Linked DNA regions of Homo sapiens. The protein of the gene in region 2 binds, or shares a complex with, the protein of the main gene of each other region. Each region holds a gene or a part of one and is shown on either strand. Other genes may lie near its edges. The genes, in order: KCTD16 and GABBR2. A codon is read from its position in the direction of its gene.

What was found.
Region 1: the proteins of GABBR2 (region 2) and KCTD16 are in contact, whole or in part, in a crystal structure (PDB 6M8R), measured with the Homo sapiens proteins. Residues at the interface, in NP_005449.5 of Homo sapiens: Ile882, Asn883, Ile888 (codon at 1,448), Gln889 (codon at 1,445), Arg891 (codon at 1,439), Leu892 (codon at 1,436), Ser893 (codon at 1,433), Leu894 (codon at 1,430), Gln895 (codon at 1,427), Leu896 (codon at 1,424), Pro897 (codon at 1,421), Ile898 (codon at 1,418), Leu899 (codon at 1,415); in NP_001357415.1 of Homo sapiens: Asn30, Gly32, Gly33, Gln34, Val35, Tyr36, Asp64, Leu65, Ala66, Lys67, Asp68, Ser69, Arg72, Phe74, Gly79, Phe80, Arg83.

The regions. Positions count from the first base shown.
Region 1 is NC_000005.10:144,201,678-144,205,592, forward strand, and holds part of KCTD16 (BTB/POZ domain-containing protein KCTD16), read left to right. Parts: intron 1-3,713; exon of another isoform or gene 3,714-3,915. UniProt on the Homo sapiens protein: Auxiliary subunit of GABA-B receptors that determine the pharmacology and kinetics of the receptor response. Increases agonist potency and markedly alter the G-protein signaling of the receptors by accelerating onset and promoting desensitization.
Region 2 is NC_000009.12:98,289,301-98,293,215, forward strand, and holds part of GABBR2 (gamma-aminobutyric acid type B receptor subunit 2 precursor), read right to left. Parts: intron 1,450-3,915; coding exon 1,284-1,449; 3' UTR 1-1,283. UniProt on the Homo sapiens protein: Component of a heterodimeric G-protein coupled receptor for GABA, formed by GABBR1 and GABBR2. Within the heterodimeric GABA receptor, only GABBR1 seems to bind agonists, while GABBR2 mediates coupling to G proteins.

The DNA.
Region 1 (3,915 bases), on a different chromosome or scaffold from region 2:
AGTCACACAGCCAGCCAGGCAGAACTGGAAGAGGGATAACGACTGACTGTGGTGAGGACTTGATGGTCATCCCTCCATAAACAGCAGCTATTAAGATAATGGTGATAATGCAGGAATCCTTGGGAGCACATAACACGATGAGTGTGCAGCATCTTAGCATAAGTAAGTTTATGAGGTCTGTTTCCTCCCTGATAGCGAAGGCTGTCAGCATGAAAGCTATCTCTGCTTGAGGGCAGAGAAAACTTAAGGATGTGTTAGGAGTGAGAATGTAGAGAGTGATCACATTATTTCAAAATTAAAATAGTCCTTTTGAGAATATACCCTTCAATATTTGGCTGTGCATGTGAAAGCAGGAAACAGAGGCGAAAACATATTTTATCAATTTCACAATTTACCTAACATACGTCTTGATTTGCTATATGCTTGAATATTACAAAGAACAGGATGGAGCATTCTTCCTTGCTCTTCCTCTAAGAGAAATCTGTTGCCGTATGCTGTTCAGCCTTCAGTCCGGGAGTGCCATCCCACAGTGTTTCAGCGGAGAGCTGCCAAGAGAGAATAATAACACTAGCGGTGTTATTTGCTGACACGAAGGCTAGGAATACACTTACAGCCTAGACTTGGCTTCTTGCCTCTTGTTAAGGCACCAAACAGCCGGGCTTACCGACAACTTCCCTGAGACATTCGCTTACTCTAGCACTATTTAAATCTCTTTGTAGAGTGTATTGCTTTATTTCCTTCAAGTCTTTTATCTTTTTAATCTCACCTCTCATTCGTTTTCATCCCTGAGACTAAAGAAACAAGAAGGAGTACAGATCTGGGGATGTTAACCTGAGGTCTATGAACCCCAACATGAATGGGCTTCAGGCCAATCTTGAACCAAACCCCTGATCTCTCAGAAGGTGAGGGAGGCCTAGACCATCTTGCTTTTCTGAGGTTCCATTTAGATTAAAAAGTAGATATGCCCAAATAGAGTTAGCAAAGCAAGTGTTTATTTTTAACTGCTTACTATAATAAACAAACTGTTTTAGCACACAACAATTAACAATATGATGCAATATAATTGTGCAAAACAGGATATTTACAGTGTTTATGAAAAATACCAATTCAAAATGTTTCAGGTGGTATGATCAAATCATGGGTTGCAAGATTAAGGTTGTCTGGTGAATGTTTTCCATTTTTCAATTCTCAGAGTGTGTCTCTGTGAATGTATGTGTAATCTCACTTCAAAAAGAAGTTTCATAGTCAAAATTTGAGGAATTCTGCTTATGTGAATCATCAACTACATGGCCCCCGCACCTGTTCCTCTTTTTACTCAGCCTTTCCTGAGAGGTTCTGCCTTGACAGTGAATGCAAACTTTTATGCTTGTGGATTCATTTCCTAGGTTTTATTAGATTCTCTAAGCAGTCCATTTTCCAAAAAAGGTTAAGAATCTACTTGTCTCAAAAGTAACCTAACCTATAAAACCCAGACCAATGAACAGAACTCCTCATTTTAAAAATTCAGAATATTCTTCTTTTATATTATAAAATCTTTTAACTCTGCAATTTAAAGTAATATTAATACTCTTTTTAAGAGTATTAATATTAATATTAATTCTTGGTGTGCTTTTTAAAAACATGTTTAGTAATCTTGAAATTTGTTGTTTCAAATTTCAAGAAAATGTCTTGCAATTTGTTGTTTCAAAAAAAATCTTGTTTCTTAAACTTGCCGCCTCTCTATTCCTATTCAAGAATATCTAAGGTTAAAATGAGGATGGTTATCCTGAAGAGTCAGTGGTCTAAAGCCCATCCTGTTACTCTGGAATCGTGTGACCCTGAGGAAGTGCTGAACCTCTCTGTTCCTCAGTTCTGCATCTCTAAGAAGAGATAGTTAATTTTCATTCCTCAAGTCCGTTTTAGCTCTAAAAGATTATAATTTTTCTTACTCTGTTTCTCCACCTACTGCCATACTGTCCCTGCAGTGTTTTCATACCTGAGCTCCAAAGCTATCGTCATGACGTTTTGACCTACTCTCTTAGAAATAAAACATTTGCTTACTTTACAACCAAAACCAGTACTTAATAGGTCTGAATTCAGATTTATTTTGTCTTTGACCTGATGTCAACGAAATATTTATTTTGTTGTCATGGTGAGCAGTGCATGCCAAGTAAACTTAGATCACTATAAAAACTTAAAAATAAAAGAAAATCTAAATGTTTTGGCCCTATTAAGTTGCCAGATACAGAGCTGCACTGATAGCTTAGGGCACTAGATGGCGATATAAGTGCATCACATAACAAACATCTTGCTTGGTCCAGCATTAAAATCCTAATGATTGAGGCCAGAACAGGTTAATGCATTAGTTAACGAAACAAAGTCAAATATAATCAGGTGTAGGAATGTTAGCTAACGCTCTGAATATGTTCAGTAACCCAATGCTTATTGAAAGAAAAGATTGTTAAAGTAGAAACTAATTTATCCTACTGTTGAGCGTATCTTCAAGCTAATTTTTTGGGCAAGAGTTGGCAATAAACACGTTTCTCATAAAATGTATATAATTCCTAAGTTCACCTCCATTTTTGTTTTTCACTTTTTAAAAATAGCAATTGTTTGGGATGGCGTGTGCCTCACATATATTATTCATTGACCAAGCACTATATTCTTATCAGGGATGTGAGCCCTAAGACACTGGTGTTTTAAAGGGGAAATGGCCGACTTACTGTAAGCTGTTGGCTGGGCCATTATTGACTGTCAGGCTCAACTGGAAGCACTTTGTTAGTGGATTAGGTTGCCCTGGAAATGCCTTCCTGAAACTCTAATGATGCACTTAAGGGAGCCCTCTGGAACAGGAGTAAAATGTCTTTTAGCAGCAGTGCCTTCCACCAGAGTCCTCTTGGGATGACTTGGGAGGGGCTGGGGGCACGTCCAAAGAGACGCGCAGTAAGGAAACAACCCCAGAAAAAGGTTGCAGGTATCAATTTCTTACAGGTGAGCTAAGATAATGACTTATGGATGTAAACTGTGGGCTTTCTGTGGGTGCCGGTGCTTCACGTCTTCATTTTGAAAGAGCATCATTAATTTCAGAGAGAGTGTTTATGTATCTACCTATTTACATATATATTCATATTTATTTATTTGCTAGGGGTTGTGGTGGCAGGCGGATGAAATAGAAAAGGAAAAAAAGGGAGAATTTGAGTGAATATGGTTTAAATCAAAGGATTAAAAAAAACACTGTGTAGTTTGAACACTGGGGTCATTTGGTGTGCGTGTCTGTGTTTTAAAACAAGCATTAGAGGGATATTTGCCCTTCAGCAGGAAGGAATTCCGTGAACGAGGAGGGGGGAGGGGGGAAGATCTGTAGATTTTTCAAATAAAAAGTCAGTTGTGTTTATCTCACAACTTACCTCTTGGGTAGGGGGCAGGGATTTGCTGTGGGATGGTGATGGAGGTAAAGACAAGGAAGAAGGAAAAGGCCCTTGGAAACTCCAGACTCCAGGACAGGACAGGGAGGGAAGTGGCTGCGCAGCACTGCGTCCCCGCCCCAAGCCCCGCGCGCCTGGCAATCGCGTGCCCACCGCCGGAGCGCGGCGTCCCCGTGCAGTCCTGGCAACCTGTCACCGAGGAGGACGTGACTCGGAGCTGCCTCCGCTTTCTCCAAGCCATATTCCTTTAAGATGATGTAATAGTCATTTCCCTGGATGGTTTCTTGCCTGCACTGCTGAAACAACAGCATCCGAACTGCACTGGGAACTGTGGAACCACCCAGCTCCGCCGCCAGAGAAGCCGGAGCCCCGGGCCCCCCGCCGGCATCTCTGCGCTGCGTTGGCCTCTGGCTCGCACCGGCTCCCACCTGGCTGGGAACATGGGAGTCCGTTTGCCCTTGCCGGCAGGTGGGGTGGCTACCTGGGACCCTAGCAGGGCACATCTCTCCAT
Region 2 (3,915 bases):
GGAAACTGAGGCTCAGAGAGACACTAGTGACCTGATCAAAGTCACGTAGGGAGTGGGCAGGGGACTGAGGACTTGAACCCAGGTCTGTCTGACTCCCAGGCCAGTGCTCTTAGGGGCTCAATTTAAAGGGAGGAATGATCTTATGAATGAGAATCAATCTGCTGACTGATCACCCCAGTGATCCCAAGGGGAGAGCTCACTGGCTTGTCTGGATGGAAGGCTGCCTTCTGGAAGCCAAGGGAAGCCCTCAGCCAGCAACTCTCTCCCCTATGTCTACGGGGATGTCTTTTAGCAGAGTGCCTCCAATTCACTTTGGTCAGAAACAAAGTTAGTGGGAAAAAAAAAAAAAAAATCCCAGCCAGCCCTTGGGCCCTGATGAGAGAGGTTAAAGTGCACAATCTTTCTTTATCGTGTTTGCTGGGAACAGACATTCCATGATTAGCTCGGGTGGTCCCCCTGGTTACTGGGAGCATCCGATAGGAACACAAGGACATGGCCAACGTGGTGGGTGCATGACAGACTGTCGGTGAATGCTGCAGAGCGTGTCTGCAGTGACGTGCCCTAAATCCCCACGGTCCCAGGAATGGGTGTTATTGTGTTAACGTGTGGCATTTACCAGAGTAACAAACATCTCATTGGGTGACACAGGTCCCATGTGGAGCATGTAAGTCAGCCTGCTCCAGTGCCGCAGCCCTCGGCCTGCCTGCTCCAGGGCTGTGCCTGTCTGCGCTCCTGCAGACTCCCTGTTCCAGGAAGGCTGGGGTCAGCTGGCCTGGCAGCTGGGGGCCTGGTGGCCCTTCCCACCTCCTCCCCCAGAGTGGAGAAGGGCTAGCCTGAGGGGTCACAGCCAGTGATGTGTGTGCAGAGGCAGTTTCTTCAGAAGCTCCTTGCCTCTTCCCAAGGCTGCTCGAGCCACTCCGTGACTTCCAGCTGGAGTTCTAGTGCCTCTCTCCTTGTCTAGTTTTTTTGTTTTTTTTTTTTTTTTTTTTTTTTTGCAAGTTTGATATCCCAGCGCCTCCTTGTTTGCAGATGTTAAGGAAGACGTCCCATTTCCGTTCCTCTTCTTTGTGAAGAAATAAGGACTTCACAAATAAGGCTCGAGGTCAGGTGCCAAGTCTCCCCCTGCCCCGTCCTGTCCACCTGAGTGCCATCCGAGTGGTCCTGAGAGGCCAGCCATGGTGCCCAGCTTCTCCGCAGCCAGAGCCGACAGTGTTTCTGCAGCAGACCCCTCTGCCCAGTGTGGTTCTGTCACGGGGGAGGCCCCGGGCCCAGGCCTCCCACCCTTACAGGCCCGAGACCATGACTCGGAAGGAGGGTGGCACATGTCTGTGGCGGGGGCTGGCGGTGGGGCTGACGCAGGGGCTGACACAGCTGGCGTCCACGCCTCCGATGGATGGGAGGTAGGCGTGGTGGAGGATGGGGAGCTGGAGGGACAGCCGACGCTGGATGCTGAAGAGAAGGAGAGGGAGGAGTGTTAGTGAAGGGTAGCTGGGCGCTTACCAGAAAGTTCCTTGGACTTGCTTTGGCTAAAAAAGCTGATGACAGGAGCATATTTTTCTCTGAATCCAAGATCTGTCCATCCAATCATCTAACCATTCAGCAATCCAGCAGGTATTTAATGAGGGCCCATATGTACCAGCTACTGCCCTGGGAATGACCAGGGAGACTTGAATAAACAAGGGAGATGAATTTTCTCGAGCTTTGGGCCAGGATTTGGTGGTTATTATAAATACCCTAGCAGAAAAGATGCTCCTTGACTTACGATGGGGTTACATTCCCATAAACCCATTGTAAGTTGAAAATATCGTAAGTTGAAAAATGCATTTAATCCACCTAACCTACCAAATATCCTAGCTGAGCCTCGCCTACCTTAAATGTGCTCAGAACACTTACAGTTGGGCCATATCATCTAACACAAGGCCTATTTTATAAAAAAGTGTTAAATATCTCATGCAATTTACTGAATACTGTACTGAATGTGTATCACTTTCACACCATTGTAAATTTGAAAAATGGTAAGTTGGGGACTGTCTGTATTACTAAGGACAAAGCTTTGCCTTTCTATCAGGGCTTTGCTGCAAACCAGATAGTTCGCATTCTCTACTCTTGCAAACCTCCACAGGGCTTTCAGTTTCATCCCTGAAAGACTTCTCGCCTGCTCCATCCTTCCTCTCTCCCGTCTGCCTCTGCTTTGCCCAGGACCGCATCTCTTCTTGCTGGGCCAATTCCCACAGGCTCTTCCAGCTTCTTTGGTAACTAGTGTTATCTTTCCAACACTAGGAAGCCAAGGAAGGGAAAAAAAGGGACACTGATGTGATATTTGGGGCCCCCTAAGTTCCATCTTTGGATCAGAATTTTCCAGGTGAATCTTCCATCCTTTCCACCTGTAAGCCCTGCCCTCTGGCAGCCAGTTTCCCTGGAAACCCTGCTCCTGGGTGCTCTTCTGCTGTTTCCCTGTCTGGAAGACTCTTTCTCTGCTTCCTGACATGATGAACTGTGTCTCCTTCAAGATCCAGTTTAAATATCACCTTGTTTGTGCTCACTCTCTGCTAGGAGAACCCTTCCTCTGCTAAGCAGAACCCTAGGTAAATACTCAGAAATGAAGCCAGAAAAAGCTGGAGGCAAGATGGAGCTGGGTGTGGGTTAGCACGTGATGGAGGAGCAGCAAGGGAAAAGGGAGCTGCCCTCTGACTCCCTTCTCATTGCCACACCCTTCTGGTCTTAATGACTGTCATGTCACTTTGTTGAAAAGGCTGCTTGCGGCAAATGTGCCCAGGTGACTGCTCCTCTGCTCGGCTCAGCTGCATTCTTGCACAGTTCTCCATGGGTGCAACTTTCACACCGCATTCCTTGAGAGAAGGGACTGAGTTCTTATGCCTTCTTGTGTTCCCAGTGCCTGGCCACTCACGTGCAAAAAAGCGAAAAACAAAAACCCCAGAGCTTAACAGACACCCAATAGGCAAAAGAAATACTGCTATTCCCATTATAAAGAAGAGGGAAGAGTACAGAGTTCAGGTAACTTCCCCATGGAAACAAAACCAGAACTGGGGAAGCTGGAATTCTTGCTGCTTCTGTTCAACCACATTGTTTTGTGGTGGAGGCGAATCAACTCATGGGGGCAGCCTTATCCCAACTGGGTGTGCCCTTGGGGTTCATTTAGGTCACTGGTGGGTTCTGAGATAGATGGGTACAGACGAAGTGCTGCCCACACTTTCCAGAAAGATTCCTCCCAAGAGACACCTCACAGGTGTGCATGGAACTACAGTGTTGGAGATCTCATTCTGAAGTTAAAGTTGGACCTGTATAATGTCAGCTGAAGTCTGTGTCTTAAGGCAAGATCATGCTGGCAAGAAGTCCAGGACAAAAAGGGAAGAATAAACTGTGACCTGGGAAAAGGGTGTCCTGTCCAAGCACCCAGGGCAGGGCTATCTGCCTAGGCAAGGTGGGTCCTGTGGTTGTCAGAGCATTCTTCTGTCTGTTAGGATCCTGTTCACCTTTCATTCATTCAACAAATGCTTGTCAAGAACCTATTCACTGGCAGAACCTGTGTTCGGTGCAGGGGACACATGAAGGACTCATAACTTACTCTCAAGGTGCTTACACTCTACTGGAGGCAACTGCTAGGCAAACTGCTGACAAATTCCATGTAACTCTCACTCACTGTCCTGGACTGTAAGCTGGCCAGGCCTTGGAGCTAGTTGGGTTGACAGGCCCTTAGCTCTAATACTAAAGAGCCCCAAATGATGCTGCAATTGGTGATTTGGCTGCTTTTGCTGGTTCCTCATTGCTTGTCACTTCCAGAGGCCAAGTTTCAAAGTTTGTATTTCCAGCTTCTGCTTCCAATGTGCTATAAGATGGGAAGGCCTAAAATTGCCTGTGGGAACAAAGCTAACAGAGATGTTCAGGTCTTTGCTT